Linked DNA regions of Homo sapiens. The protein of the gene in region 3 purifies or fractionates together with the protein of the main gene of each other region. This does not show direct contact. Each region holds a gene or a part of one and is shown on either strand. Other genes may lie near its edges. The genes, in order: CHERP, GPATCH11, RBM17 and RBM5.

Region 1 (7,049 bases), on a different chromosome or scaffold from region 3:
GGCTACATTCCAGAAAAAAAATATCAACTTATACAACTAAAATAACTGAACTAAGGGCCAGTACGCCTTCGAAGAATTAGGTTTCAGAATCTCACTGGGCCTCCTCTCAGGTCAGTATTCTTCTTTCTAGACCTAAACCAAGGAGAGTAAAAATGAAAACCCTGCTTCACTTCGCAAGTCAAGTCAAAGTTTTGTGTTTCTGTTTTTCAATCCGCGGGCAGTCATGGCACTGGGCTTCGGCTTTGTCCCTACACAGCCGAGGGGAAGCCAGGTCAGGGCCGGTGGGTGCGGGGAGCTGGAGGAAGGAGCTGGGGTGCCGGCTCTGGCTCAGGCCAACCCTTCCTGCACATGCTCCTCCTGGAGCCTAGGAGGAGGCTTCAATCTGACTTAGGGCAGATGCACATCCATCCCTTCGTGGCTGAAGAATTTACTCGGGCGGAGGGTCTTGTGTTTTTTGCTTCGCTATAAAGGAAAACGAGCCTGGGGCCCTGGTGGCTGCAGCGCCTCCTGGTGTGGTTTGTGGGTGGCACCCGTGCCCTCCACGCCATGGAGCACGGCGTTCCCACTGGGCATGCGCTGGTCTTCCTTCTCTTCCTGTGGCTCTCCACAAGTGGAGACGGTGTAAGAACTGAGCTGTCACTGCAATCTTCCTCTGCCAGTCAGCCAGGAAGGTCCCACAGCCGGCACCGCTGGCCACCGGCGCGGCTCCCGGCATGGGCGCCTACTTACACTCGTCCCTGGCCTTCATGCGGGCGATGAAGGAGTAGCTCTTGTTCCTGCGGTAGTTCTCATAGGGGTCATCCAGAGCCACGCCCACGCCTTTATACTGGTCCCACTTATCCCGGACGTCCCCGCCCTTGATGGGGTCCTGGATCCCTTGCTCCTTCGCACCGAGGCCGCCTGAGCCGCTCCAGCCTGGAAACAGAGACGCAGTCACAACCACAACAAGGCGGAGGCAGATGGGGGTGCACGTGGGGGGCTGAATGTCCAGACAGGCAGTGTAGACATGGGAAATGGGTAGAGAGAACCCGCAGGCCGGCCCTGTCTAGAGGGTCTGGGTGGAGTCAGAACCGGCCTGACTCCATCCATCCCCACATGCACTGAGGAAGAGAAAGCGCTGGTGACTCCCGGGCCCAGCACGCGTGAGGACCCATCCCGCGCCCTCCCCATTCCCTCGCCTTACCCATCTTCACCAGCATCTGATGGCCTTTGTTCTCTTCTCCGAGCCTTGAGTCAGGGATGGGAGGCGCCGAATTAGAACCCAGACCAGCAGAGGAACTAAAATCGAGACAGGTTATTCTTTTTAAGAAGTAACTGAGACATTTATTGGAATGACAGTGATGAGGACCTCACAGCCGCAGCTTGCGTGCATGCTCACTGTCACCAGGTGACACCGTATGCAGATTTTGCGTCTCTACCCGTTTATCCTGTCTCAGCTAGATAAGGGGGCTCCAGACGCTGGCCCCCACCCCACGCTCAGCATTGAGAGCAGGACACCTCCAACCCAGATGGTGGTTAGAAAGCAGACCCCAGTTACTGCCTCAGGCTTCGCCAAGTGGCTACTGTGGTGAAGGGTGAGGGGTGCCACTGTCCCCGGGCTAATGCTGGCGGCCTCCTAACACAGTCTCCTAACCACCAATGTTTCCACATTCACAGCAAAGCACCGCAGCTTCCCAGAGTTACCAGCGCAGCACTTAAGACAGGATCTTACGGCGGGGTGGGGCTCCTGGACCGTGACCGGCGTCTTCTTCCTGGGGAGTACGACTTGGACCGGGACCGCGACTGGGACCGGGAGCGGCTTCTGGAGGAGCGCGACCTGCTCCGACTTCTGCAGGGAAGGGTGCCCAAGGGTCAGCAGCAGCCAGGCGTCGTGGGGAGGCCACAGGAAGAGGCCTCAGGCACTGCCCTGAGGCAGCCTCTGCCTACCTAGATCTGGAGCGGGAGTAGGAACGGGAGCAGGAGCGCGACCTTGACCTTGAGTACGAGCCTGAAGACTTGGAGGATCTTGAGTTGGAGCGGGAGGAAGAACGCCCTCGACTCTTGGATCTGCTCCGAGACCTCGAGGGTCCGCTGTGGGGAGAGGCCTGATGATCAGGTGCCCCAGTGGATGGGCTGCACCCAGCCCACCCTGGCCCTCAGGTTCCTAGACCACCCCAGATGCAGGGGCTCTGGCTGTGGATGTGGCGCCATAGCCACAGCAACGGTACCAAGTTCCTAAATAGTGTGGCCGAGCCTGCTGCTGTGTGAATTCAGGCCTTGTGGAAAACACCGCCCCATAGGCACAGGCTGTGTGAGGGTGGACGTGATGAGTGTATCTGGGGTCTGCTCCCACCCATCACAAGCTGTGGACCCTGGCCCCCCGGCCACTGCAGACATCTGCGCTTTTACCTGTTCCTCTTCTCCTGGCCTTTCCTCCGCCGGGCCCGCATTTTTGCTCGGAAGAACTCATAGAGGCCGTTCTGCTCCCAGCCTTCACTGTAAGACACGGCATTCCGTGTGTGACCACGTGACACCCACCCACAAGGAAGTCGTGAAAAAGTCATCAGGAGTTAATCCACAGAACCTTGGAGAGTACATGGCCCTGTGGCTGTGGGCTCCGAGCATGGGCGCAGTAGAGCTTGGTTCAGTGTTCCCACAGGGCTGTCCTCCTGCAGCCCAGTGGCTCCTCTGGTGCCCACGCCCTTGCCACCCTGCTGTTCCGCTGAGGTGGTGGGGACCCATGGTCTGTGGAACTGGGAAACAGGAACACTGACTCATGGGTGGACAGGCCTGCAGCCCAGCACAGGAAGGAGGGGTGACCACTGGGAAGGGTGGGCTGAGGGCCCTGTGGCAGCCGGCTGCTTGAGACGTGCCGCCGTGCCACACCTTCCCTAACTTCTTCTGATGTGTCTCCATTAAAACGCCCTTCATTGAGGGCCACGTGTGTGCTGTGCCTGTGACACACACTTGTCACTCAGGCGGGGGGAGGGCAGTTTCTCCTGAGGGACAGCCACATTTTCTAGCCTGGACAGAAGGTGTGGTTGCAGGGAGCCGGGAGAGGGGACAGAGGCCTCCCGCCCACCCCACTGACCTGGGCCCCTTACCTGTTCCTGGGCCTGTCGTGGGACGGGGGGCTGTAGAAGGCCTCCACTGCAGCCAGCAGCCTCTCGCTGGGCGGCATGGGGGGTGGGAGGCGGATGTCTTTAGGGTCCAAAGGCTTGTACTCGTGATCTTCCAGCTGCAGCAGAGAACCCCAGCTGTCACCATGCCTGGGCAGAGCCCTCTCAGGCCCACCCAGGGTCTGCAAGGAGTGGGGTCAGGGCAGGGCCCAGGTTCAGTGTCAAGGGTACCCTGGGCACCAGAGCTCCTCATGCTTCCCTCTTGGGGATCCCACTCTCTTGTAGGACCTCAGCCACACCAACCATGGTGGGTCATAGCTGCTCTGAGGCTGATGACAGTCACAGGGTTCTCTCTTCAGAAAATCACCCACAGGGGACATGGTCTCCAAACTCAGGTGACCTGAACACCCTCTGGTTTATTCAGACATGCAGCGGGCCCCTCACGTCACCCTTTGCTTGCAATGCCTACCCTGGGCCCCCGCTCAGAACAGCCTCAGCCCCGGCCCTGGAGCCCCCTGGCCTGTATCCTTCTTCTGCTCCGTCTCTGTCCTCCTGTTGAGGCCCTGCCCTGCCTGGCTTGCCTGGGCCCCCGCCCGCAGCTCTCCCTGCTGCCCATGGCTCCGTGAAGTCTGCCTGGACTTCAGGTGGATGTGTCTGAGGGGGTGGGAAGTGGCAGTGGCCAGCATGCCCTTGGAGGCCCCAAGCCCCGGCCCTGGCCTCCCCAACCCCCCCTTTTTTTTTTTGAGACGGAGTCCTGCTCTCGCCCAGGCTGGAGTGTAGTGGCGTGATCTCGGCTCAGTGCAAGCTCCGCCTCCCGGGTTCATGCCATTCTCCTGCCTCAGCCTCCCGAGCAGCTGGGACTACAGGCGTCTGCCACCACGCCTGGCTAATTTTTTGTATTTTTTAATAGAGACGGGGTTTCACCGTGTTAGCCAGGATGGTCTCGATCTCCTGACCTCGTGATCCGCCCGCCTCGGCCTCCCAAAGTGCTGGGATTACAGGTGTGAGCCACTACGCCTGGCCAGACCTGGCCCCTTCTTGCCTCACCTCTTGCCCTATGCTCCGGCCATCCCACAGTGGTACCAGCTGCTGCCAGCCCTGCCCGGCTTCTCCAGGGCCACCCCCCTCCCTGTGTGCTTGGTAGGCACAGCTCACAGGTGGCTCCTTCTAAGACATTCCCTCCATCAGCAGCCCTGGGACAAGGTGCTTCTGAGGCCCTGGACCAAGAAGGACGAAGAGAGGACTCGAGCCTCATAGCCTAGCTAGCCCCACATGGCTGAAGCTCCCTGTGGTGGGAGGGATAGGAGGGGCAGGGCAGGGCAGACATGGTGTCGCTCACAGCCACACCGTGCTACTCCGGTTCGGCACCTCCCACTGACGGATCAGGGTCCCTAGGGAGTGGGAGATGAAGGGGAGCCCCGGAAGGCACCCGGTCCCGTGCATTCACTTTTCACAAGGAGAAACGGGGACCAGTATGGTAAGCGTGCTCAGCTTGGAGCCCACTGTGGGGCATTACCTTCACGAGGGGGGCCATCAGCCCAGCAGGGAGATCGAAGTAGGGCACATTGGGGACCAGGCTGGGGTCATCGTGGTTGATGTGGGGTGGGCCCTGTCGCCGCATGTGTGGGGGCTGCCCGTTGAAGCCATGGGGGGGAGGGCCGAAGTCAGGGTGCTGGGGTCCAGCCCAAGGCGGGTGCTCGTTGATGCCAGGATGAGGCATGCGGTGGCCAGGGTGGTGGTGAGGGGGCCCCATTTCTGCAAAACAGAGACTTGCCTCAGGACCACAGGCCAGTCAGGATCTCCCAGGCGACAAGTGCTGGAGGGGAGGGGCTCAGTGAAGGGCCAGGAGACGAACCCCTCCTGGGAGCCTGTCCAGCATCTTCTCTCACTGCTTAAGACCAGGCAGCAAGGCACCGAGGAGCCAGGCTCCGAGGGGCCTGTCCCGCACCCATAGGCACAGCCGAGGGAGCTTGAGGCTGAGAGAAGAGAACCCCAAAACCCCAAAACTGCACGGTGAGGGCTAAGTTGTGACCCTCCGAATCCATACGCTGAGGTCCCAGCCCCCAGTAGCTCAGGACGGAACTGTATTTGGAGACAGAGCCTTCAAAGACACAAATGAGTTAAAATGAAGCCATAGTGGCCCGAATCCAACGTGACTGTTGCCGTTATAATAAGAGATTAGGACACAGACATGTAGAGAGAAGACGGTCACCTATGAGCCAAGGAGACAGGCCTCCAAGACACTAACCTGAACCCGCCACACCTCCACCTTGGACCTCCAGCCCCCAGATCCTTAAGACAATACATTCCAGCTGTTGAAGCCGTCCAGGCTGTGGGACTTATCATGTCAGCCCAAGCCAAAAAGTAAAAGCAATAAATGTGCCAAGCGGTCTTCAAGCTGCATTTATAATCAGAAATGTATTTAAAGAGAGAAGGCTGGGCATGGTGGCTCACGCCTGTAATCTCAGCACTTTGGGAGGCCAAGGCGGGTAGATCACTTGAGGCCCAGAGTTTGAGACCAGCCTGGCCAACATGGCGAAACCCCATCTACTAAAAATACAAAAATTAGCTGGGCATAGTGACTGATGCCTGTAATCCCAGCTACTGAGGAGGCCAAGGTGGAAGAATCACTTGAACCCAAGAGGAGGCTGCAGTGAGCCGAGACTGTGCCACTGCACTCCAGCCTGCGTGACAGTGAGGCTCAGTCTCAAAAAAACAACAAACAACAACAACAAAAGGCCAAGCGAGGTGGCTCACACCTTTCATCCCGGCACTTTGGGAGGCCGAGGCGGGCGGATCACCTGAGGTCAGGAGTTCGAGACCAGCCTGGGCAACATGGTGAAACCCTGTCTCTACTAAAGACACAAAAAATTAGCCAGGCATGGTGGCGCACACCTGTAATCCCAGCTACTCGGGAGGCTGAGGCAGGAGAATCATCTGAATCTGGGAGGCGGAGGTTGCAGTGAGCTGAGATTGTGCCATTGCACTCCAGCCTGGGCAACAGGGTGAGACTCTGTCTCAAAAAAAAAAAAAAGTACTAAAAGATTAGAAATAAAATCAATAACAAAGATACTAGGCATGGTGGCTCACATCTGTAGACCCAGCTACTCTAGAGGCTGAGGTGGGATGACTGCTTGAGCTCAGGAGTTTGAAAGTAGCCTGGCCAACATAGCAAGACCCCATCTCTATTTAAAATAAAATAAAATTTTTTTAAAAAAGAAAAGTAGTTTTTTGTTTTTTTTTTTTGAGACAGCGGTCTGTCGCCCAGGGTGGAGTACAGTGGTGCGATCACAGCTCACCGCAACCTCAGCCTTCTGAGCAGCTAGGACCATAGGCGCCCGACACCACGCCAAGTATTGATTTTTTAAACGAACTAATACAACGGGAAAACTGATGCAAAAAACAAGCAGCAGCAGTAAAAAGAACGAGGCCCCGCCCTGCCCTCGCCACGCCCACCCACGGCAGGAACCTTTTCCTACTGGCTCTGCCTCATCTGCAGCCAGCCGGGCCTCATCAGGGCGGCAAAACTGAGTCTGTGCCCCCACTTCCTGAGAACCCAGGCCGGGCTCCTCGGACGTCCCATGACCCTGTGTCTGTCACTGTGCACTCAGGAGCATGGCAGGGCCACAAGCAGCGCCACCAGCCTGCTCGGCAGGCGAGCCGTGGATGCCTCCGCCAGGCCCTACCCAGGCGCCCGTACACTCACCGGCAGGGAAGTCCCCCTGGGGGTAGTCGAAGCGGTGGGGATAGGGCGGCCGCTCGAAGGGGTGCCGTGGCGGGAAGTCGTCCTGCATGAAGCGGGGCGGGAAGCGGTTGAAGTTGTGGGGGTGCGGAGGCTGGTTGAACTGCGGGTGCTGCTGGTGGGGCGGGAAGGGCCCCCGGAAGTGTGGGGGCCGCTGCATGCGGAAGGGTGGCTCGCGCTGGCCCCCGCCCCAGGGCGGCTGCTCGTGC
Region 2 (8,369 bases), on a different chromosome or scaffold from region 3:
AAAAAACACTTAACACTTAAGGCACTCTAATAATTAAAAATCTATATTGTATTAAACATAAACCGTGAGAATTTTCAAGTTAATGAAAAGTTCTGTAAGAAATGAGCCATTCTTTCCTACATTAAATATTCTCCTTCATGCTCCTCCAAAGCCAAAAGGTTAGCTCCAATAAAGTGACTCTGATTCAAAAAGTTATGAGACCAACTTACTAAGAAATAAACCAACAGCCAAAGGATGCAAAATATTGGGTGTATGGACAACTGATGTCTTACAACCCAGATAGGTTTCCTATGTAAAAGTGAAGTCAGTAGTTCATAAAGTTACAGGTCAGCAAATGAAACCAAAAGAAACTGAAGAGCCCTAGACAACAGGAAAAAAAAATACCCAGCTCTACCCATAATCAATATCTAGAATTCATTTATTTATTCAAACAATATTTATTATGTACTTAACGTATGCCACATACTAGGGTGCAACAGTGAACAAAATAGACAAACAAGTCCCTGCCCTCATTAAGTTTACATTCTAGTGAGGAGGGACAGAGTTTACCAAACAAACAAATGAATAGTATGGGTGGTTACTGTTTTACGTGGATTAATTAGAAAAGGCCTCTCTCTGAAAAGAAGTGAAGGGGTGAGCCATGCAGATACCCAGGGGAAGAACATTCCAGGCTGAAGGAACAAGTATAAAGGCCTTGAGGTTGGAGCATTCTTAGCATCCTTAAAGACACCAAGAAGGCCAGTTTGGCTGCAGTGGAGTAAGAGAAAGTAGTAAGAGATGAATTCAGAAGGATAGAAGGGACCACATCAGGTAATCTCTTGCACCCCACTATAGAACTCTGTATGTCACTCTCAGTAAGAGAACTTTGTATGTTACTCTGAGTAAGAGTTTGAAGCAGAGGAGGGTCGTGATCTAAATGTTTTTAACAGGCTCACTCTGACTTCTAAGAATACTCTATATGGTCCATAAATGGAAAGCATCATGACCAAATAGGAAGCAGATGCAATAATCCAGATGAGAGATAATAGCGGTAACCATAGAGATGATAAATAAACTCTGGATTTGTTTGTGGATGAAACCATAGGATTTGCTGGTGAATACAACATGAAATTTGAGAAAAAGAGGGAAGTCAAAAATGACTCTATGGTTTTCCCTTGAGCAACTAGAAGGATGAAATGGTCATTTCCTGAGATAGAGAACATGGGGGAAAGGGCAGGTTTGGGAGGAGAAATCAAGAATTTGGTTTGGGTATGTTAACTCTGAGATGCCACTTAGATAAGAAAGAGGTGGAGTAAACATTATCCTGGGAATCATTATTTTATAGATGATAGTAAAAATCATACAATTAGATGATATCACTGAAGGAATATGTACAGATTAAAAAAAAAAAAATGCCCTGAACTGAGGAAGAGTTAAAAAAGAACAAGAAGTAGTAGTTAGTGAAGTGGGAGAGGAACCAAAACCTAACAGCGTCTTGGGAAGCCACGAACAGGAAGAAAACTTCACACAAACTGTGCAAAGCAATGATAACAATCTTATTGTTTAATTTGGGTGGAGGGTGTACAGATATTCATATTATGCTTCCTGTTTTATACACTCTTGTATTTATCAATTTCAGAACAAAATTAAAGACGTTTTAAGTGTTTCAAGGTGAAAAGATGGAGATGGATCAAATAAGACAGAATACTGACCACTGTTCTGGGCAATCTGTCATCAGTAATGGCTGGACAAGTGCTGTTTCAGTGGAGTGGAAGTAAATCCCCAGTTGTAGAGGATTTAAGAGAAAACAGAAACGTCTAGTTGACAATTACAAGTGAATCCATGCATTGTTTTTTTTTTATACTTCAAGTTCTAGGGTACATGTGCACAATGTGCAGGTTTGCTACATATGTATACATGTGCCATGTTGGTGTGCTGCACCCATTAACTCGTCATTTACATTAGGTCATGCATTGACTGTTTCTATAGAAATTCCATTAAAACCATACTAAAGGGTAGCAACAACAACAGGAACAATAACAACAAAGCACAAATCCAAAGGGTAAAGAAAACAGGAGAAAGAATCAACACAGTATTTGGAAACCAACTGTTCCCAACAGGGAAAGCTGCAAAATGACCTAACTTACAACACAGGACCCCCTAAGAGATCACGGTTTTTTTAAGCCCTAGGTGCTTTTGGAGGTGGGAGTGAAGTTGTATGTACCTTGAGATAGAGGGAATGGTTGAGAGTCTAATAAGCAGAAAGAATCCTCTTCTTCATTATGGAAGCAGACTGAAAGTTTATTCTCTGGGAAGAGTGAAATATTGTATGTCCAGACTAGAAGAGTCCAGGCACAGTTGCGGTCTGGGAAAACTGCACTGAAAATGGGGAGATGCAGTGAAAGTTCACATACTGAACTTTAAAGTCCCCAGTCTTCTCCCACAACTCCAAGAATGTAGCCAGCTAGCTATATACTCTTCAGACACGACAGTAGAAAAGTATCTTCTGGGGAATGACTAGCCTACAGAAACCTAAAATACTAAGGTCAGGGACCAAACTAGCCTACAGTGAAGTCCAGTTTAAAAGACTGGCCCTGCTGAGAAAAGTTTTTACTACTCACTTTTAAATTTGATCAGGCAGCCAAAGATCATCAGACATTTGAGGGAAGTATCTACTTTTTTTTTTTTTTTTTTTTTTTTTTTTTTTTTTCAGATGGAGTTTCACTCTTGTCCCCCGGGCTGGAGTGCATTAGTGCGATCTCGGCTCCTTGCAACCTCTGCCTTTCCGGCTCAAGCGATTCTCCTGCCTCAGCCTCCCCAGTAGCTGGGATTACAGGCGCCCACGACCACGCCTGGCTAATTTTCGTACTTTTAGCAGTGTTTAGTAGAAACGGGGTTTCACCATGTTGGCCAGGCTAGTCTGGAACTCCTGACCTCAGGTGATCCACCCACCTCAGCTTCCCAACGTGCTGGGATTACAGGCGTGAACCACCATGCCGGGCCATATCTACTTTTAAAGACAGAATATAAAATACACAGACAATAAAAAGTAAGTTGAATCAATGTTGGGAACTGGCTCCAAAACTGGCCATAAATAAAATCTCTGCAGCACTGTGACATGTTCATGATGGCCATAACGAAACCCGAATGAGGGCAAGGAACACCTGGCCTGAAAACCGCTTAAAGGCGCTCTTAAACCACAAACAATACCATGAGCGATCTGCGCCTTAAGGGCATGTTCCTGCTGCACAGAACTAGCCAGACCCACCCCTTTGTTTCAGCATACCCCTTCGTTTCCCATAAGGGATACTTTTAGCTAATCGAATATCTGTAGAAACAATGTTAATGGCTGGCTTGCTGTTAATAGACACTTGAGTAAATCTCTGTTCCGGGGTCTCAGCTCTGAAGCCTGTGAGACCCCTGATTTCCCACTTTACACCTCTATATTTCTGTGTGTGTCTTTAATTCCTCTAGCGCCGCTAGGTTAGGGTCTCCCCAAACGAGCTGGTCTCGGCAAATCAAGGCTATGCAGGAAGAAAAAACAGATTAAAAAAAAAAAAGAGCCTATTATTGACTCCTCAAAGAGATAAGTGAAGACACTGGGATTGTTAGGCAGCATAGAGAGATCACTTGCAACGGGTGACGATGATAAATTTAAAGTGACACCAGTCATATAGCCATGTTTTTCTCCAGTTACAATGAGCTGCCCAGGTACAAACATAAAGAAGATAGGCAATGAGCTGGATTTAAACGAGGTTTGAGTTTTGCCACTAAATTTCCCATTCGTGTAATACTCTCAAGTTCCATAAGTGACCCATAAACCTTCCAAAACATAACATGTGTTTTCTTAAGAATCATGACCACATAATCTCTTCACGTTAATGCAACTGGGAAAAAAGAGCAATACCATACCTTGTTGGCAGCAACCAAGACTTTATCAAGAAATCGCAACCATTCAAAGATGAAAACTGGTCTTTTTGCTTCGGTGATTTGAGCCAAAGCTTCTTCATTTAGCAATAAACTGTGGGCTAACTCCATTACGGAAGTTTGAAATTCACACCTTAAATTTAACAGAGTAAAAAATACTTGTAAGTATTTTTTAATGTTAAAAGTCAAGCTTAATGGAATATACTCACTAAGAAAAGTAGGACTACTCATTTCATTTGGGGAAAAACTCAACTTCTTTGAGGCAAAACCTGAGAACATACTTTTAAATGACAAAAATACAAACAAAAACAGAAGAAAACTACTTGGTAAGGAAGAGTGACTCATGGAGTGAAAAGAAAATTAAAAGAAATTATTGCCAAAAAAGGCATTATTCCAGAAGAAATATGTCCAGCAACACATATGTCATTTACCCGTTCTATAAATGAAAAAACTGAAGCACTAAGATCAAACACCCCAGCCGGGCTTGACAACCATCCTCCTCTTTTTCTCGTCCAGGGTTCGGTACATAGCACCTTTACCCTCCCGCGCTGCACCTGGCCAGAGGGACTGAGGTCAAAACACCCAGCACAGACATCCCGAACTGCAGGTCTCCAAGACTCTTCCTACGCGGATGGGTGGGGCGGCCAGGCCCGGCGGCCGAAGCGTCAGTGACAACACCAGGCGGTCCGGAATGCACCCGAGAAGCCTCGCGCGCTCGGGGTCTGGCTTCACCTGGCTACTCCAAGAACCGCAAGCGGCGGACCCGGGGAAACACCAAGAGGCCGCCGCAAGCCTCCGTGGGGTTCCGCAGGCTGTCAATAGCACGAGGCGGCAGCTCGGAACTAAGCACGGAGCCAGAAAAGGGAAAATGTTCATTACGAACTCAAATGTCTTCCCCACCCGTCTGAAAATGTACGTCGGACAGGAGTCCGTGCGTGTCAACATGCATGCTTCGGCGACCTCACCTCGTAGTCTGGAAGGGAAGATCAGCTGAGCTCCGGGGGTAGAAGCAGCCACCAAGAGACCCGGATGCCCCACCTCCCGCACTCCTACCTGCAGGAAACAAGGGAAGAGCGCTTGCGCGGAGGGCTGGTCTTGCGCAAGCGCAGTCACCACGTCCTCCTATCCCCACCCGCCGCGAATTTCCAATAGAGTCTGCACTAGGAAACTGGTGGGAGCCGAGGTCCGGAAGTCCGACGCTGGTCGGTGGGCGCATGCGCAGCGCGCGCTCTACGGCGCTGAACCGGGGCGAGCAGAGAGCTGTCAGGTAAGAGAGCTGTCAGGTAAGGGTCTGGGGACAACCGGTAGAATGATAAAAGGCAGAGTGCGCTGGCCATGACTACCGTATCACACCGTCAGCCACTTTTCCATCCGTGGGTGGTTGCGTCTGTGGGACGCTTGCAGCCAGGAGGAACGCGTGAGGGAAGGGATCAGCGGTTCCTGAGCGTAGTATTGAGAGTGGGACGTTTCTTGTCACATTTATACTGTAGGTCCATTTCTCCACTTGTATATGTAATGGGACTCTCAATATGTCTGTTTCCCGACTACGCCCCCTAAAAAAACAAAAACAAACCTACTCCTACAGTCTTCCCACTCTCAAAAAACGTTAACTCCGTTCTTCCATGTATTCAGGCCAAAAACTTAGCGTTATCTTGACATCGTTCTTTACGTACTACCTACAACATCAGCAAATCCTGTAAGCTCTACCTTCAAGTGTACCCCAAATGCGACCACTTGCATTGCTATCACTCTGGTACGAGCCTCCATCATCTCTGCCAGGGTATCGCCTTGTGAAGTTTATGCTTATCTTTGATGGAAATGGATAATGCTAAAGTATATTTTACCAATAGAAAGAGAGCTTTAAAAGCAACCTGTAACCCCATTCAGATGTGCCTGGCACTTTAAAGTTAAGTAGGTCTCTTAAAAACAATGTAATCCTATTTGCAAGGCACTATGACCCGGATTCTTTGTGGTTTTGAAATAGTCATTTAGCCATACTGAACCTTAATTTCTCCAACAGGAAAAACTCTTCCTACCTTGTAGAGTTGTTAGTGGTGGTTAAATGTGATAAAAATGTGTGATATACTGGGTAAGTGTTAAACCATTATGTGTAAAAATGCTGTTATTACCAATGAAGAATCTGAGGTTTAGAGGAAGCGGGTGAATTACCATAAATGCTGTATATAATAGTGCACGTTTTTAACTTATAATAAAAATAGGTAAACTAAACTGTAATGTTTAAAGATGCACACGTGGATGACAAAACTATCGAGAAAATGAAGGAAATGATTGCCATAAAAAACAGAATAGTGACTATTCTTAGAACCAAAAGAGAGTTGCAACTGGATAGGGGACAAAGAGGGCTCCCAGGTGCCTGATAAGGTTCTACTTCCTGATAACTTTTGCTACATAACAAATTATCCCCAAATGTAGCAGCTTAAGATAACTGTAATCATTTGTTATCTCACAGTTTCTATGGGTCAGGAATTTGTTAGCAGCTTAGCTTAGTTTAGCATGGACTTTCTTAAGAAGTTGCAGTGAAGATGCCAGCCCAGGCTGAGTCATTTGAAGGCCTGACTGGAGCAAGAGAATCCATTTCCAAGGTAGCTCACTCCTGTGGCTCATGAGTTTGTGCTGGCTTTTAATAGGAGGACTCAGTTCCAATCGTGTGACCTTCTCCATAGAGCTTCTTGAGTATCCTTATTATGTGACCACTGACTTCCTTCAAGTGAGTCATCTAACTTCAAAGTTAGAATGACCTAAGAGCTGCAGTTATGACCAAAAAATCAACTCCATCATCTCCACAAAATCCTGTTGGTTACACAGGTTAATCCTGTTCACTGTGGAAGGAGACTACACTAAGGATGTAGAAAACCACACAGCAAGAATGACTGGGAGTCATTTTGGAGGGTACCACATGGTTACAAGAATGTTTGACTCACAGAAATGTATTAAGCTGTACATTTGTTTTATGTGTTTTCTGTACGTATTTAAAAAGTGTTTAAAAATGACTTGTTGACATAGGAAAAAGTTATAAAATTACAAATATTAAAGACCCTTTTTATCCTCATTGTTGCTAAACAATTATTAAGCATTTGTGTTTGGGATGCAGTGGTAGGTAGGGAGGATATAGGGGACTTGTCTTTGTGTTTAACACAAGATATACATTATCTAGTTGAGAAGATATACATTAAAAATATAAAAAACCAGGCCAGGTGTGGTGGCTCACGCCTGTAATCCCAGCACTTTGGGAGACCGAGTGAGGCAGGTGGATCACTTGAGGCCAGGAGTTTGAGACCAGCCTGGCCAACATGGCAAAACCCTGTCTCTATTAAAAACACAAAAATTAGCTGGGTGTGGTGGTGGATGCCTGTAATCCCAGCTACTCGGGAGGCTGAGGCATGAGAATTGCTTGAACTCGGCAGGTGTAGGTTGCAGTCAGCTGAGATCACACCACTGCACTCCAGCCTGGGTGATAGAACGAGATTCTGTCTCAAAAAACAAAAAAGAAAACCATTAAAAATTAGTATAGTAATCCTTTTTTCATCCAGTGTAATTGTCTAGACACTTGGTTGCAGTTGACAGAAACCCTACTTCAGCAAGCTTAAGTAATGCAGAAATGTATTAGTCTATGTAATGGGGTAGAATGCTAAGTCGCAGCTTCAAAGAATCCGCAGCCTTGGAAACTAGGCTCATTTTCTCTATCTGGCTTCATTCTTCAGACAAGATCCCTTCATGGGGCCAAGAAGATGGCCATCCACAGCCCAGCTTCACATTCTCCCAGTTCAGAAACACCCATAAAAGACCTTCTTTCCCCCACAACCCATATATTCATATAATGTAAGGAAAAAGATGGTTATTTCTCTGGCTGGGTCATCTCGTCCCCTGGTGCTGGACATAGAGTACTATAATTGACCATCTTTGTGCCCAAGGAAATATGGGATACTGACATTGCCACCCTCCACTAAAACCACATGAAGGGCAGAGGGTTGGATTCCCAAAGGAAAAGATGGTAGGCAGGAAAAAACAGTACATATGCACCACAACAAGTGAATACACTTTTGTCTTAAGCAACTGAACTAGCAACATTGACATTGCCTGTGAACCTGCTAGAAATGCAGAACCTCAGGTTCCAGCCCCAGAATCAGATTCTGCATTTTAAGAAGATCTCAGTGCAATTTGTATACACAATAAAGTTTGAGAAGTACTTTTGTAGAAAATTACTTTAACCCTTTAAGGGCCAATAATTACATGATTTTAACTATTTTGGATAGAAACTGTCCCTCAAAATATTTCCACATAAGTGAGTTGTTAACTATATCAACTTCCAAATGAGCAGCTTGGACATAAAGTGCTGTAGAGAAAGGCCTGGAGTGGTCAGGAGAGGTTTCTGAAGGGAGGGTAGCCTTGGCCTACAGGGAAGAAATGTTTGTACTCTGTTCAGAGGGCAGTGAGGAGCCATG
Region 3 (7,756 bases):
AAATGGAGATACAAATGAAACCACAGCTTCAAATTTTCTCTACCAAATAAATACCTTTACAGGTTTGGCTAGGCCAATCTAGTATTCTGAGTAACTAAACAGCCTAAGAGAATGCAATCTTCACTTCCCTTAAAAAAAAAAACCCACAAAACTAACTGTACATAGCAATCTCAAAAGTTTTATAAAGTTAGTAGAAATAACTTCACAAGCTACCTCAAGTTTTAAAAATCTATATGAGGCCGGGCACGGTGGCTCACACCTGCATCTTCCCTGCAAAGCAAAAGTTACATGAAATCTACAAAGATTTTATAAATGTACTTTTAAAAAAAATTAAAGAGAAAAACGAGGTTTTGCTAACCCTCCTTACATTTGGAATGAAACCTTGTTTTAAAAAAAACACAAAATACTGGCATCCAAAAAATCTAAATTTGGTAATGATGAATTTTAAAAACACAAAAAAACCTCTCTACAATACTGAACAATCAAATGTAAGCACTTCCATGTAAGTATCTATTGATGTGGTAAAGGGAAAAGAAAAATGAGTAGAACTTTTAAGAAAAAAAACCTGTGTATTGGCCGGACACGGTGGCTCACGCCTGTAATCCCAGCACTTTGGGAGACCAAGGCAGGCGGATCACGAGGTCAGGAAATCGAGACCATCCTGGCTTACAAGGTGAAACACCGCAGGCGCAGTGGTGGGCGCCTGTAGTCCCAGTTACTCAGGAGGCTGAGACAGGAGAATGGCGTGAACCTGGGAGGCGGAGCTTGCAGTGAGCTGAGATCATGCCACTGCGCTCCAGCCTGGGCTACAAAGTGAGACTACGTCTCAAAAAAAAAAAAAAAAAAAAAAAAAAAAAACAAAAAACCTGTGTATTACGGAAATTTTCAAACATGAAATTAGAGATTAATATTAATTCTTAAGTCTCTACTATCCACATCCAGTTTCAACAATTATCAACTCATGGGTAGTTCTGTTCTTCCCTCCCTCCCCTGCCCGGGACTGAATTGTTTAGAAGTAAATCCCAAAAATGACATCATCTTATCGGTAAATATTTCAGTACACATCTCTAAAGTACTTTTTCTCAACTTTAATTACTGCCTCCCCAGCAAGGAGCCTTTGACTAAATTTTCTCCCGCACATGAAATTTTCACACCACAGATACACTGTGCACAACACGAGCAAGGTTTTTTCACCCCCAAAAAGACCAATATTCGCTCTGTTTGGGGGGATATAGCCTCCATTACGAATGCATACTCTAGAACATAAAGATCTCTAAAGTAGTAAACAAACCATAATACCATTCTCATGCCTACATTTTAATGGCAAATATCCAGTCGACAACTAGGTTTTTAATGTTTTACATGTTATTTCAAGGACATTGCCAATACCCAACATGTACACAACAGAAACAAAAGCAATCAGCATCCAGACTACCTATGCCTGACGCCTTCACAATCAACCTGAGCCCTCAATAAGTTGCACGCAGCAGCTTAGGTATTCTGTGGAGCTTCTTCCCAAAGTGCTGCTTCCAAACTACCTCCACCAAACCAGTAGGAATGCTACTTAAAAATTCCCACTCCTGGGGCTCCAGCCTGAACTACAGTTTACCAGAATATCAGGAGTAAGGCTACAAAATTAGCACCTTAAACAAGTTCTCACTCAATCTTAGACCTCCACTACTTAAGTTTGAAAAGCAGTGTCACTGCTGGTTCAGAGTACTGTTTTTTTGTTTGTTTGTTTGTTTGTTTTTGAATCGGAGTCTTGCTCTGTCGCTCAGGCTGGAGCGCAGTGGCGCGATCTCGGCTCACTGCAAGCTCTGCCTCCCGGGTTCACGCCATTCTCCTGCCTCAGCCTCCCGAGTAGCTGGCAGTACAGGTGCCCACCACTGCGCCCGCGGTGTTTCACCTTGTTAGCCAGGATGGTCTGGATCTCCTGACCTCGTGATCTGCCTGCCTTGGCCTCCCAAAATGCTGGGATTACAGGCGTGAGCCACTGCGCCCAGCCCCCGCAGAGTACTGTTTTTCTTCATTCCTACCCCACGAAATGTTCCTATTCCCAGGAGCCAGGAGTAGCAAAGTGGCCTTAAACTCCTCATTCCTCTCCCCCTACAAATGCTTAACACCATTTACCCAATACAAAGGCAGAAGAGCAAGCTGAAACCAAATTCCTTGTCATCCTAATGAGGAACCCACTCTGGAGGCCTCTGCTCTCATGCTCTGGGCTTGTCTTTACCTTTGCCTGAGTGAGAGCTGCCTTCTTCACCTGAAGCTGAGACTGCAGAAGTTTGAAGTTTTTGGACCAGCCTTCTGTTTTTGAGTCACTGGTCTCCACTCCTAGGTCATCGTACAGGGACATCTTTTCTTCAGTTTAATGCTGAAAGGCAAAAGGGGTGGGGATTAAAGAATGCACAATTCAATAAAGGCTTTTCATGTTAAAATAAGTATCATGAAATTTTAGAGGTAAAAGGTCCAGGACCTTTCAGCAACAGAGGCCCAGGCTCCTGGTACCATTAATGTAGGGCTATTCCTGATACATGAAGCTAGACCATGGATTATTTTTAAAATAAGCCTCTAAAATTCATTTTTCCATCTATAAGATCATGCAGTCAAGTGATCCATGAGTGAAATCCTTCAATGCTAGGGCACATAATGAGGTAAGAATTGGAACATTATTAATTACATATATCCAATTTTTAAAAAATTCTATTTATGTCAGTGCCAAAAAGTAGAAGCTTTACAAAAACACCAATTAGCAGGTTGATGTAGCACAATTAGCTACCCTTTTATAAAGAAAAAATTTAAACGTACTCCTAGGGAAAAAAATGACAGAAATGATCTCTTAGATGTGATTTTGTCAATTACAATTATCAAGGGGGGAGTAGACTGGTTACATCTTAAATACTCTGATTTCCTCATATCACACCAAGTGGAAATCTGTCATCTTTAATGATAGTGATTACAAAGAGACAATCAACAATCTGCATGTGAACGAGCAACACACAGCTTCCGTGCAGAACAGAGGAACACGTGGAAACAAAAACCGAGTCAGCAGGCGCAAAGCATGACATGCAATGCAGCATCGGCAGCAGGTCCCATGAAAGCCCAGCACTGCACAGACATGGATGCTGGGGTTTAGGGAATCAATCTGCCCAAGGCCACAGCGGAAGCCCCTTCCAACCCAGCCAGGCCAACTCCAGAGCCCTCGCCAGTGAACCCCAACTGCCACTTTTTAAAAAAAAAATCAACATTCTGAAACCCACCAACATAGCTTACTTCTTCAAATAAGAAATCAATCTCACAGACAGAAAGAGAACTTAATTTAAACAGAAACCCACAAATTGCAAGTAAATGCTTAGCACAGTAGTTCCCAGTTTATGGACAAATAAGTCTGTCAGTTCCCAGGGGGCCCATAAAGCATTTTCCCATGGAAACCGTGTTATTGAAAAGCCTAATTTGCTTGTGTTCTGTGGCTCAGGAGAGGAGGAAAATATTTAACACATACCCTCCTTAGGTCTGATTCGGCAAGCATTTCTCTTGAAGGTACTCTTACTTCTCAGCTCCCCCATTACAGGGATTCTAAGACCCTGCCGCCCCAACACCTTCGCTGATGTTGGTACCACACTGTGTGGAGTGGGGGACGGAGTGCACACCAACTTCTGTTCCCTCAGAAGAACTGCCCTGGTCTTAAGTACAGTAACTCCCTGCCTGAAGTCAGCACCCCAGAAAACTGTCACCACTTTTTAGTTTCTTCCATTCCTTCATACGTGAACCCTCAAATTAACTAAAACCTCTCCATTTTGATTTTTAAATGAAAGGTCCCCGCAAGGCCGTAGAGAAGCAGGGAAAGCAGACTGTCCAGGGGTATTGATGGCCGACTGCTCAAATGAATCACATAAGAATGAAGGGATGGTCAGGCACGGTGGCTCACGCCTGTAATCCCAGCACTTTGGGAGGCATAGGTGGGCGGATCACTTGAGGTCAGGAGTTAAGAGATCAGCCTGGCCAACACGGTGAAAACCTGTCTCTATTAAAAATACAAAAATTAGCTGGGCGTGGTGGTGGGTGCCTGTAATCCCAGCTACTCCGGAGGGTGAGGCATGATAATCGCCTGAACCCGGGAGATGGATGTTGCAGTGAGCCAAGATCACACCACTGCACTCCAGCCTGGGTGACAGATAAAGACTCCGCCAAAAAAAAAAGAAAAGAAAAGAATGAAGGGATGCCGGGATGCAGACAGACTCTCCTCCTGATAGATGTCTTCAGTGCAAAACTGACCTTTTTCAGGAACTTGGGGATGTCTCGTGACAGGCCTGAAGCACTGAGGCCAAATCAAGAAAAAATAATGAACTCCATTCCTTAAGAAATATGGATGAAATATAACCATGTCCTCAAAGTCTTGGAGGGAATCCCCTGATGTCCACTTCAGAGCCTAGTTTAATAACTCTGAACTCCAAGAAAACCTAGATCCAGGTTGTTCTGTTCACTGCTCTATCCCCAGACTAAGATCAATATCCAACCCACAGCTAAATAGGAAATGAGGCCAAACTGCAGTTTATACTCCATTTGCGAAGCCCTCTCAATTAGAAATTTCTGGCCAATAATCACTGGCCAGAAGGAACAACACTGCACCAAACAGCTTTTGAGGCTTTTGTACACTTTTCTTCCAGCTTACCCAGAACTCAAAACTCATTGTTCACATCTAGATACATACCCTTAAATTTTAATCTAAGAAAACTCAAACAGAGCAACAGCACAGAAAAACCATGCTGAGTGTCCAGCTTAGCACTGTGGCTCCCAAACACATTTCTTCAGAAATGACCATGCACCTTTCATCTAACTTAGTTTAATCTTTTGAGCCCTCTTCATCCAACTGGTCAGCAAACCAAAGCCTACTGAACTACAGGTTCTTCTGTTCTTTCTTTATTCTTAAAATGGAAAGGGAATACTAACAGATTCTGAGAAATAAACAATGCGACTTTCTGGGAAATCACAAAGATAAATCAAAATTTGTTTGCAACTCAAACTAAACTCTAGATATTTGCTTTTCTCAATACAGACTATCTCCAGTATGAAAATCTGAAATCCTTCAAAACCTAAAACGTTCCGAGCAACAACATGACCCCAAAGTAGAACATTCCACACCAGGCCGGGTGCGGTGTCTCGCACCTCTAATACCAGCACTTTGGGAGGCTGAGGCGGGTGGATCACGAGGTCAGGAGATCGAGACCATCCTGGCTAACACGGTGAAACCCCGTCTCTACTAAAAATACAGAAACAAAATTAGCCAGGCATGGTGGCGGGCACCTGTAGTCCCAGCTACTCAGGAGGCTGAGGCGGGAGAATGGCGTGAACCCAGAAGGCAGAGCTTGCGGTGAGCCAAGATTGCACCACTGCATTCCAGCCTGTGTGACAGAGTGAGACTCTGTCTCAAAAAAAAAAAAAAAAAAAAAAAATTCCACACTTGACTTCATGTGATGGGTCACAGTCAAAAACAGAGTGAAATCTTTTTGCATGCATAAAATTATTAAAAGTATGACATATATTGCATATTCAGGCTATGTGTAGAAAGTATATATGAAGCATAAATGAATTTTGTGTTTAGACATGGGTCGCATCCTCAAGGTATCTCATTATGTATATGCAGGCATTCTAAAAATCTAAAAATATCCGAAATCTGAAACACTTCTGGTCCCAAGCATTTTGGGTAAGGGATACTCAACCCATTTCTCTTTATAACTTGAGAACTTTACCGAAAGTGTTTATGAATACGTTAGTGCCACCAGAAATGGGTTAACCAAATGCCCATTAAACTTCGAGGGGAAAGATTCACTTATTTATTTTTGCATCTACAATTTCTGTCATATAGCAAGCATTTAATAAGCTTTATTAAAATACTAATAATGGGCCGGCTGCGGTGGCTCATGCCTGTAATCCCAGCACTTTGGGAGACCGAGGCGGGCGGATCACTTGAGGTCAGGAGTTTGAGACCAGCCTGGCCTACGTGGTGAAAACCCATCTCTATTAAAAATATAAAACTAGCCAGGTGTGGTGCTGCACGCCTGTAGTCCTGTCCCAGCTGAGACAAGAGGGTGAGATAGGAGAATTGCTTGAACCCGGGAGGCGGAGGTCGCAGTGAGCCAAGATTGCACCACTGCACTCCAGCCTGGATGATAGAGCGAGACTGTCTCAAAAAAATAAAATAAAAAATAAATAGGCAAAGAGGCAGCACTGGGGAATAAGGGAAGGAAGTAACCCCCAGAGAGGGAGGCAACACTCCTCACCCTCCCCAGAAGAGTCAACTCTGATGAAAAGAGTTCTCTAAACTTTGAGGCTAAAAATCTAGCAGTGTACTAGATCTCAGCTGCCAACAGTTCTTCCATCAATAGATTCAATATTTAGCAAAAATTAAATAGTGAATTAATGAGATTTTATGAGACCACACATCTCCTCTGATTCCATGTCATTTAAGATGGCTGACTGACAATTCCAGTTGATTTGCTGCATTGCGCAAAAGTTTCAGAAATCATCAGGCAGCAAATCTCATGCTCATTTAAAGGTCCTCATTTCTCTTCTCAAACCTGCAAAACGCTTTAAATATTAGAAACTGATGTCATCTTACCAGCACCTGCTAGTTTTCTGTAACATTGAGCTTATAAAATCAAATCTCTGCATCACAGCAAATGCAAAAGTGCTTTCTTCGTTTTTCTCATTTTCACTGAATTTTAAGTTCACAGAATGGGATTAATCATAGTAACATCACACTCTCATCCATTCACACACTTATTACCTGCTTTTGTTTAATTATTATAATGCTGCAAGCACCTGTGAATTCACCACCCAAAACAAGACAGGATCTAGACTAAGAAACCACACTCAACCATACTACTCCCCCAACCCATTCATGTAATTTCCCCGGAATCCTCTTCTCATTATTTCCTTGCTTTCCTCCTTTTATGTTAATTTTATTTACAGTTTTAGTTAATCTATTCCTTAAAAAGTGTGTATTCTTTATTTTCGCTATATTAAGCATTTAATATACAATAGTTTGTTCATTAATTCTCCCCACCGCAACTACTGAAATGTAATAAGTACATTAATAAGACTGCCAAGACCCAAACTTACCCTAATTAACGTTGACATTATTACTTAGACAACATAACACATTTATTTCATTAGGTCTGCTGCCAGGTAACAAAAAGCTGTACTTTGTAACAACTGGATATACCATAAGAAGCCAGGATCAAAAGTAAATACAAATTGCTGGTTTTTATAACTTTAAAATATTTGCTATTTCCTTCCTTTTTGTGGCAACACTTCCCTTTGAGCAACCCACGTTTCATATATGCTACATTTTTTCTTAGGAAACATAACAAACATGGTTCTGCCAGAAGGAAGAATGGTGAGTTTTCAAGATTCCACCCAAGCTGGAAAGTATTTTTTTAAAACATGTGCAACTGGCAGGAAAAAGAACATGGAAGAGTCTTCTCAGAAGCACCCCACCTACTTATCTTTCAAGTGCATCTCAGAAGCCTTTAGTGACTATTGCCCCCACATAAAACTAACCCCCCCCAACTGGTTTCCTCAAGCATACTCAGATCACAGCAACCTTGGCAAGTTATGCTGCCTATTGTTTCACACAGCGGTTTCTTCCTGCAGTGTAAGCCCCCTAAAGGCAGGGGTGTTTCTTATGTTCAGCTTTGTATCTCTAGCTCAGCACCATGCTTGAACATTGTTAAGTGGCTCTATTAATATTTTT
Region 4 (7,359 bases), on a different chromosome or scaffold from region 3:
CATCGCAGCAGAGGGTGGACCAGGTATCACCTGTATCATGGCCAAAAGCAGGGAGGATCTGCCCTGCAGAGCAGTGACAACTCCACACTCCGGCATGTGTGGAATAAAGTCTGTGGAAACTAGAGAGGTGCAAGCACTCATGGTCACTTTGGTCTTAGCAGAAAAGCTACTAAGTTACCATGATTTCCATGAAGAGTTTTAAAACATGCTAAACTTTTTTTTTTTTTTTTTTTGAAACGGAGTTTTGCTCTGGTTGCCCAGGCTAGAGTGCAATGGCGCGACCTCCGGCTCACTGCAAACTCCGCCTCCTGGGTTCAAGCAATTCTCCTGCCTCAGCCTCCCGAGCAGCTGGGATTACAGGCCAACCACACCCAGCTAATTTTGTATTTTTAGTAGAGACGGGTTTCTCCATGTTGGTCAGGGTGGTCTTGAACTCCCAACGCCAGGTGATCCGCCTGCCTCGGCCTCCCAAAGTGCTGGGATTACAGGCGTGAGCCACCACGCCCGGCTAAAACATGTTAAACTCTTGAATTTAAAAATCCGAACATGTCAAGACCAGCCTGGGCAACAGAGTGAGGCCCCATCTCTGTAAAAAATTAAAAAATTAGCCTGCATGGTGGTATGTGCTTGTAGTCCCAGCTACTTGGAACACTAAAGTGGGAGAATCGCGTGAGCCCGGGAGGTCGAGGCTGCAGGCTCCCGAGTAGCTGGGATTACAGGTGCACACCACCACGTCTGGCTAATTTTTTTGTATTTTTGGTAGAGACAGGGTTTCACCATGTTGGCCAGACTGGTCTCAAACTCCTGACCTCAGGCAATCCACCTGCCTCGGCCTCCCAAAGTGTTGGGATTACAGGTGTGAGCCACCACGCCTGGCCAACCCTGCCTCAAAATCAATCAATCAATCAATCAGAACGTGGTGATGGGGGCAAGAAATAAACTGATTTCATCACCAGGCTTGACTGGCTCAGACATGCTTGACCCACCTACCCACCCAAGAATAAAGAGACACAGGACACCCATTTCTCAAGGTATTTCTTTTGTAAAGGAGCCAGATTTGGCAACTAGACTGAAAATCTTCCAAAATTCTGTACAAATGTGTAATATACAAATATACACAAGGCTTTTGCCAAGAAAAGACATCACAACAAATGACAGAGGTGGCTTTGGTGTCACATACCACCTACAGCATCTCAAACCCCTAGGAATGTGAGGGGCTGATGGACCACAACATAGGCTACACATGTAAACACGCTACATTACACTATGTACACTGGAGTATAAACAATCCACTGTCCTCTCCGGTCTGTTCACAAGCCCTCTGGCGGGAAGGAAGGCCATTCACCAGGCAACCCACATAAGGGGAACTTCTTTAAGGTGGGAGGGAGAACCCTGCAGAATGAAGTGGTTCACCCTAAGATCTATTAACAGCACAAGGCATGCCCTTAAAGAGACAGGCGGTAACAGCGAATTCGGGAGATGGACCACTTCTTGTGCTCCTTGTCATCTCTCTCTCTCTCTCTCTCTCACTCCATCTCAGTGAACCGGGCAAACATGGCTTTCCGGACAGCATCTTTGTAGGAATCGGCGCCCGACAAACCATATGCGCTGCCTTTGGCTCCTAGGCCAGCTCCCTTTAGCCGAACTTGAGCCTGGGAAAGCACAGAGACTGTCAGCTGGGAGGTAGGGTATGGGCTGCTCCACCTCTCACCATGCCCACTCCTTACCCAGCAGGACCACCCACCAGGAGACAGAAGAGAGAAAACTGTATATGAAGACAAGGATTTCTCCAGAAGAGACCAGGAGCAAGTATAAGGACTGGAGGAATAAAATGGGCTACGGAACACAGGCAGATGAAGCAAATCACCCACCCCTCAATGCCTGCTCAGCAAGCATCCACGCCTAGGAAAGGGCCCCAAAGTATTCCTCTGAAGGTCTGGGAAAGGTATGGTAATTACAGGCACACATTATACAGGATAGCTCAATGTCAGCAGAACTCACATAAACAGGATGAACATGGTCTACAAGAGTCTGACCTAAGCTGTGCTCCCAGGACAGAGCAGGGGCAATTACGGGTGGAGCTCCTGCCTAGAAGGCCAGTGGGTAGGGGCCTCCGATCCTGGGATATGATGCCTCAATGTGGGCTCTGATCAATTTAAAGATTTCTTATCATGGGTGAAAACCCTACTAAATTTTTTTTTTTTTTGAGACAGAGTCGCTGTTGCCCAGGCTGGAGTGCAGTGGCGTGATCTCGGCTCACTGCAACCTCCTCCTGCCAGGTTCTAGCAATTCTCCTGCCTCAGCTTCCTGACTAGCTGGGATTACAGGCACACGCTGCCACGTCCAGTTAATATTTTGTATTTTAGTAGAGACGGGGTTTCACCGTGTTGCCCAGGCTGGTCTCAAACTTCTGGGCTCAGGCAATCCACCCTCCTCGGCCTCCCAAAGTGCTGGGATTACAGGTGTGAGCTCATGCCTGTAATCTGCCCCTTCATGCTAAGGTAAAGCTGCTCCTGGCTCCCAGGCTCTATGAGTGCTCTGATCTCATCTCTGGAACCGGCCTGTAAGCCTGGCAAACATCAAGACCTGACCCCACTGCTTACCTCAATGGGAGCCGTAATGCCTTGACACTTTCGTCCCAAGCCAGAGCCTTCCCGCCAGCCCATGGCCTGCAGCATCTTGTTGCCAATGTTACTGTGGTCAATGCCATCTTTGGTGGGTTGCTCGTAATTCCTGCCAGTGGCAAACACACAGTTACTTAAAACAGCCAGGGCCCCAGCTTACGAACTGGAAAATGTGCACATCACATACACAGTGCCGGCATCAAACTGCTTCTTGCGCTTGGGCTCTGGAGGTTCTGGAATGCCGTACTTCTCCCGTCTTTCTGCAGCTCGGTCTCGGTATTTCATCTACATGGGAGAAAAAACACTGCTGGAAATGTTCACAGACTTCAACCTGTAACCGTCTAATGCACCTATTCAAAACTATCCCCTCAAGTATTTTTAAATCTGAAGAATGCTTTTTTTAGACTGCTCTGAAATACCAAATTCCCTTGTTCCCATCATCATACCTAGTCATATCTGAAATGTTAAATTTGTAAATATGAATTGTGTGGAACCAGGGGCAGAACTATGTCTCCAACAAGCAGTTTTATTTAATTAGCCACCCTCTGTCAAGCTACTCAACCAGCCCACTGGGCAGTGGGTACAGCTTGCGAAGAGGAAGGCAGAGTTGCCCGTTCTCCTCAGCATTTGGACAGGCATACCTCCAACATTTGGAAAGGCATACCTCCAACATCAAGGAGGCTTCCAGAGACCTGTTCAGCAGTCGCTGGGGAGGTGGAACCATAGATAGTAGGGCAGGAAGGGTGTGGGGAGAAGAAAAGCAAAAGCCTTAACTACAAACACTTCAGAAATATCTCAGGTGGGAGATTTCAAACCCACTTGCTCATTTCTAAACCACAGGCCTCTATTTGCATTTAAATCCCTGCCCACCTGGCCGCCAACCTGCCCCAACCACCAGCACTAACTGCTTGCCCATTATTGTGTCACAGGCTTCTCTCTTGCCTTTGTTCCCAGATCTGCTTGCCATGCCCTGCCCACCCTTCCTTTCATATCACCTGCAATAACCTCACGTCCTGCTGTCCCTTGGGATTAATTTGAAGCGCACTTCTTTGCCCATGAAGGCTTCCCTGGCCAGGCCAAACTAGACCACTCTCTCCATAACAAAATCCAGCGTATTTAAGCAGCAAGCTCTGGCATTGCTGTGAGAGAGTCTCGGCAGTGTGCTTCTGCCTTGTGCACCCTTATGATGAAGGGACAATGTGAGGCTCACAAGGCACACAGAGGCTGGGTCTAGGCTACATGAACTACAATGGTCAGATGACAAGGGTATGACAAATCCTCCTACCCTGCCCCTGGGATCTGGAACTAAATGCTACAAATAAAAGCTAAAGGCAATTATCCCAATATCCTCTTCCTTGTGGCACAGTTTCCCATTCACCTCTCTCTCCCTTAGCTCCAAGGCTTCCAGCTCCTGCTCGCTCAGCCTGGATCGTCGATAGATGTCCATGTTTTGCTACACAAAAGATTTGAAAGACACAGTAAGGACTCAGACCATCTTAATTTGAAATGTCCTAACATTAGTAACATCTACTGTACTTTAAGAGCCAAAGCCCAAACAATACACAATCACATAAAAACTATAGTTTGATGTGTGTGGAGCTGCCAGACTCCGTCCACTGTCATCGGGAACAGCTTTCTGTAAGGCCATCATTAGATGGCAGGTATTTTTGGAACCGTCAGGACTGTTAGGGCACTCAAATTGTCTCACTGCCTCCCCTCGCCCCCTCAGATCAGCTCAGAAGCATGGCCACCTTGTGAAGGTCTGAGAGTTGCTGGTGCCTGACTAGGGCATCTTTGTTCGGGAACTGGCGCCGGCAGAGCAGACAGGCCATCTTCTTCCAGTCAGCTAGCTTCTCTTCCTCACTCTCAAGTCTCTCCACCAGCTCCTCCTCATTGTCACTGTCACCACTGTAAGCAGCAACCAGACCCCTCTGGAGACAAAAGGAGGACAGGTCACTGGAAATGTACAATAGGAAGATGGCGGTGGCTATGTACCTGGATAAAGTAATGCCTCATCCGAAATGTTAACAAATCCCCATTACTGCATGTCACACTTTAGTAATGAATCACATTTTGTCAACTGCGTGGAGCAGTCAGGTCCTTGAGTGCTAGGCCTGACAGCCTCCTGGTACCAACCTTCTTGGAGCCTAAGAAATGGATTCCTGGGTGACTACCTTTTTCTATTTCTTTGGAGAAGGAGTCTCGCTCTGTTGCCCAGGCTGGAGTGCAGTGGCGTAATCTCAGCTCACTGCAACCTCCACCTCCCAGGTTCAAGTGATTCAAGTGTCTCAGCCTCCCAAGTAGCTGGGATTACAGGCGCTTGTCACCACCCCTGGCTAATCTTTTGCATTTTTAGTAGAGATGGGGTTTCACCACATTGGTCAGGCTGATCTCGAACTCCTGACCTCAAATGATCCGCCTGCCTTGGCCTCCCAAAGTGCTGGGATTACAGGTGTGAGCCACTGTGCCAAGACTGTTTTTGTTTTTTTTTTTTTTAAATGAGACAGGGTCTTGCTCACTGCCCAGGCTGGAGTGCAATGGTATGATCCCCAAAAAGTGCAGTGGCTCACTGCAGCCTTGATCTCCTGGGCTCAAGCAATTCTCTTACCTTAGCATCCCAAGTAGCTAGGAGTACAGATGCAAGCCACCACACCCAACTAATTTGTTTCTAATTTTCAGTAGAGACGAAGTCTTGCAATGTTGCCTAGACTGAGTGACTATTTTCAAACCACTGACCACAAATAAAAATCCCAAATACAACATATCAGAATAATGGCCCACCCAGACCAGTATCTATCTAGTAAAACAAGCTTTTTCTTGTCTTAATTTTCTCTTTCCAGACCATTAAAACTCTCCACTCACAGATGCAATGAAACTTAATTAACTGAGCTTAGGAATTGAAGCTTCTTTCATCACTCCATCTCATCTGCTCTCACAGAAAACAAAGCCCCGACATGGAATCTATGTGCAGAAACTGCTCCAATACCCATCAACAGTGATCACATTCAGTTTTAAGTAGGAATCACATTAGCCAAGATGCAGTTGAGCCTTAAAGTGAGACACAAACCACAGATAGGGTCTTTAAAACACTGGTGGTACTCCCTTACTTTGAGGGGATTCTCCTCATCTCCATTTCGCACCAATTCTGGGATGAGCTGCTGCCTTTCAGCTAAGGCTCCCTGGGAAACAGAGGACAAGCCATGAGACTCAAGTTTTAGGTAAGTTCCCATCATGACATACTGGCCATTCCTGCTATTACCTTCTTCTCAAAGAGAGCAAAGCCAGCGTCTGCTGCAGCAGATTCTCTCCTTTCTTCTTCCCTCAAGGAATTGACAGGCTGAAAGCTATTTTTAAAGTTTTCTTTCTGCTTATTCAAACTCTTAGCCCAGCGTTCCATGTCTTTGGCAATCTAATGTCAAACAACAAACACCAACAAAAAAATATTTAATCCCCTGTGCCATGAGAATGAGCCATTAAGGATCTTATCTCAACTATATGCCCTGTAACAAACCCCTTTTACTCTTACTTCCACCTACAAATATTTCCATTAGATGTTATCACATATAACCAAAGTCATTCATAAATACTGCTTGAAAAGCTTTGAGATTTCCAGGGCTTTTTTCCCTAAGTACACAGGCTGACAGTCAAGATATGGTAACAATAACAAATTGCAAAATGCTCTAAGAACTTAGTATGAATAAAATGTGAAGCCCAATTTTTAAGAATCCAAATAATACTGACATAAATGCTACAACCCCAAAACTAAGAGTTCAGCCCAATACCTCAATGAAAGAAATATGGGTCATGTTCTAACCTGCTGGGCTGTTTTGCTCTTGGGTTTCTCCTTCTTCTCTTTCCCCTCTTTTGCAGGAGGCAGGCCCGACTGCTGGTGGGAGCTAGACTCTGCAGCTGGCACGTAGGTCTCTTTTTCCCCATCCCAGTAAAGGTACTGCTGGGTCAAGGAATTATAGTAGTACTAGAAAACAACAAACAAAAAACAATTAATGCAGACTTTCTGCTATGTCAGTCGATTACATATTTTGTCAAAAAAAAGATAAAGTATGTTGTGGACTAGTGATATTTCCTGCCCAGAAAAGACCCTGGGCACACCTTGGTATAAGTAAAGGTGATGAACCACCTAGCAAAGAGGTGTGACACTGCTAGAGTAAAAATAGAATATGATTTCTTTAAAAAGTTTAGTTCCCAGCCGGGAGCAGTGGCTCATGCCCGTAATCCTAGCACTTTGGGAGGTGGTGGTGGGCAGATCACCCAAGGTCAGGAGTTCAAGACCAGCCTGGCCAACATGGTGATAACTCATCTCTACTAAAAATACAAAAATTAGCTGGGCATGATGGCACACCTGTAATCCCAGCTACTCAGGAGGCTGAGGCAAGAGAACTGCTTGAACCTGGGAGATGGAGGAGGTGGCAGTGAGCCAAGATCATGCCACTGCACTCCAGTCTGGGCAACAGAGTAAGACTCCATCTCAAAAAAAATGATAATAAAAATTTAAAAAGTCTAGTTCCCATTAATTTAATCCCTGGGCCTACCTAGAGGGCACCCAAAGAGCAATTTGTCTCACTCTGTTCCACAGACTATTTACATAAACCAGGCAGCCAGAACAGGTGGGCGTGTCATGGAGTTCAGACATCTGCCATGACAACAGCTCATCATTGGGCCCATCCACATAGAATCCATTGGATACCAGGCAACCACACACAGGGTGTAAACACTA

What was found.
Region 1: the proteins of RBM17 (region 3) and CHERP purify together in Homo sapiens (co-immunoprecipitation; 5 studies listed by BioGRID and IntAct, with this or other methods). This does not show direct contact.
Region 2: the proteins of RBM17 (region 3) and GPATCH11 purify together in Homo sapiens (affinity purification with mass spectrometry; 3 studies listed by BioGRID and IntAct, with this or other methods). This does not show direct contact.
Region 4: the proteins of RBM17 (region 3) and RBM5 purify together in Homo sapiens (co-immunoprecipitation; 3 studies listed by BioGRID and IntAct, with this or other methods). This does not show direct contact.

Annotation. Positions count from the first base shown.
Region 1 is NC_000019.10:16,518,438-16,525,486, forward strand, and holds part of CHERP (calcium homeostasis endoplasmic reticulum protein), read right to left. Parts: coding exon 6,805-7,049; intron 4,854-6,804; coding exon 4,615-4,853; intron 3,218-4,614; coding exon 3,084-3,217; intron 2,916-3,083; exon of another isoform or gene 2,476-2,915; coding exon 2,389-2,475; exon of another isoform or gene 2,071-2,388; coding exon 1,927-2,070; exon of another isoform or gene 1,829-1,926; coding exon 1,712-1,828; exon of another isoform or gene 1,657-1,711; intron 1,279-1,656; coding exon 1,184-1,278; intron 916-1,183; coding exon 722-915; 3' UTR 1-721. UniProt on the Homo sapiens protein: Involved in calcium homeostasis, growth and proliferation.
Region 2 is NC_000002.12:37,079,398-37,087,766, forward strand, and holds the start of GPATCH11 (G patch domain-containing protein 11), read left to right. Parts: upstream 1-5,120; 5' UTR 5,121-5,173; exon of another isoform or gene 5,174-5,189; intron 5,190-5,926; exon of another isoform or gene 5,927-5,995; intron 5,996-8,369. Other genes in the region: HEATR5B (HEAT repeat-containing protein 5B), read right to left, coding at 3,892-4,017.
Region 3 is NC_000010.11:6,091,666-6,099,421, reverse strand, and holds part of RBM17 (splicing factor 45), read right to left. Parts: intron 2,375-7,756; 5' UTR 2,357-2,374; coding exon 2,234-2,356; intron 1-2,233. UniProt on the Homo sapiens protein: Splice factor that binds to the single-stranded 3'AG at the exon/intron border and promotes its utilization in the second catalytic step. Involved in the regulation of alternative splicing and the utilization of cryptic splice sites.
Region 4 is NC_000003.12:50,112,624-50,119,982, reverse strand, and holds the end of RBM5 (RNA-binding protein 5), read right to left. Parts: intron 6,601-7,359; coding exon 6,439-6,600; intron 6,034-6,438; coding exon 5,884-6,033; intron 5,804-5,883; coding exon 5,732-5,803; intron 4,556-5,731; coding exon 4,376-4,555; intron 4,078-4,375; coding exon 4,003-4,077; intron 3,962-4,002; exon of another isoform or gene 2,910-3,961; coding exon 2,812-2,909; exon of another isoform or gene 2,734-2,811; coding exon 2,604-2,733; exon of another isoform or gene 1,735-2,603; intron 1,653-1,734; coding exon 1,527-1,652; 3' UTR 962-1,526; downstream 1-961. UniProt on the Homo sapiens protein: Component of the spliceosome A complex. Binds to ssRNA containing the consensus sequence 5'-AGGUAA-3'. Regulates alternative splicing of a number of mRNAs.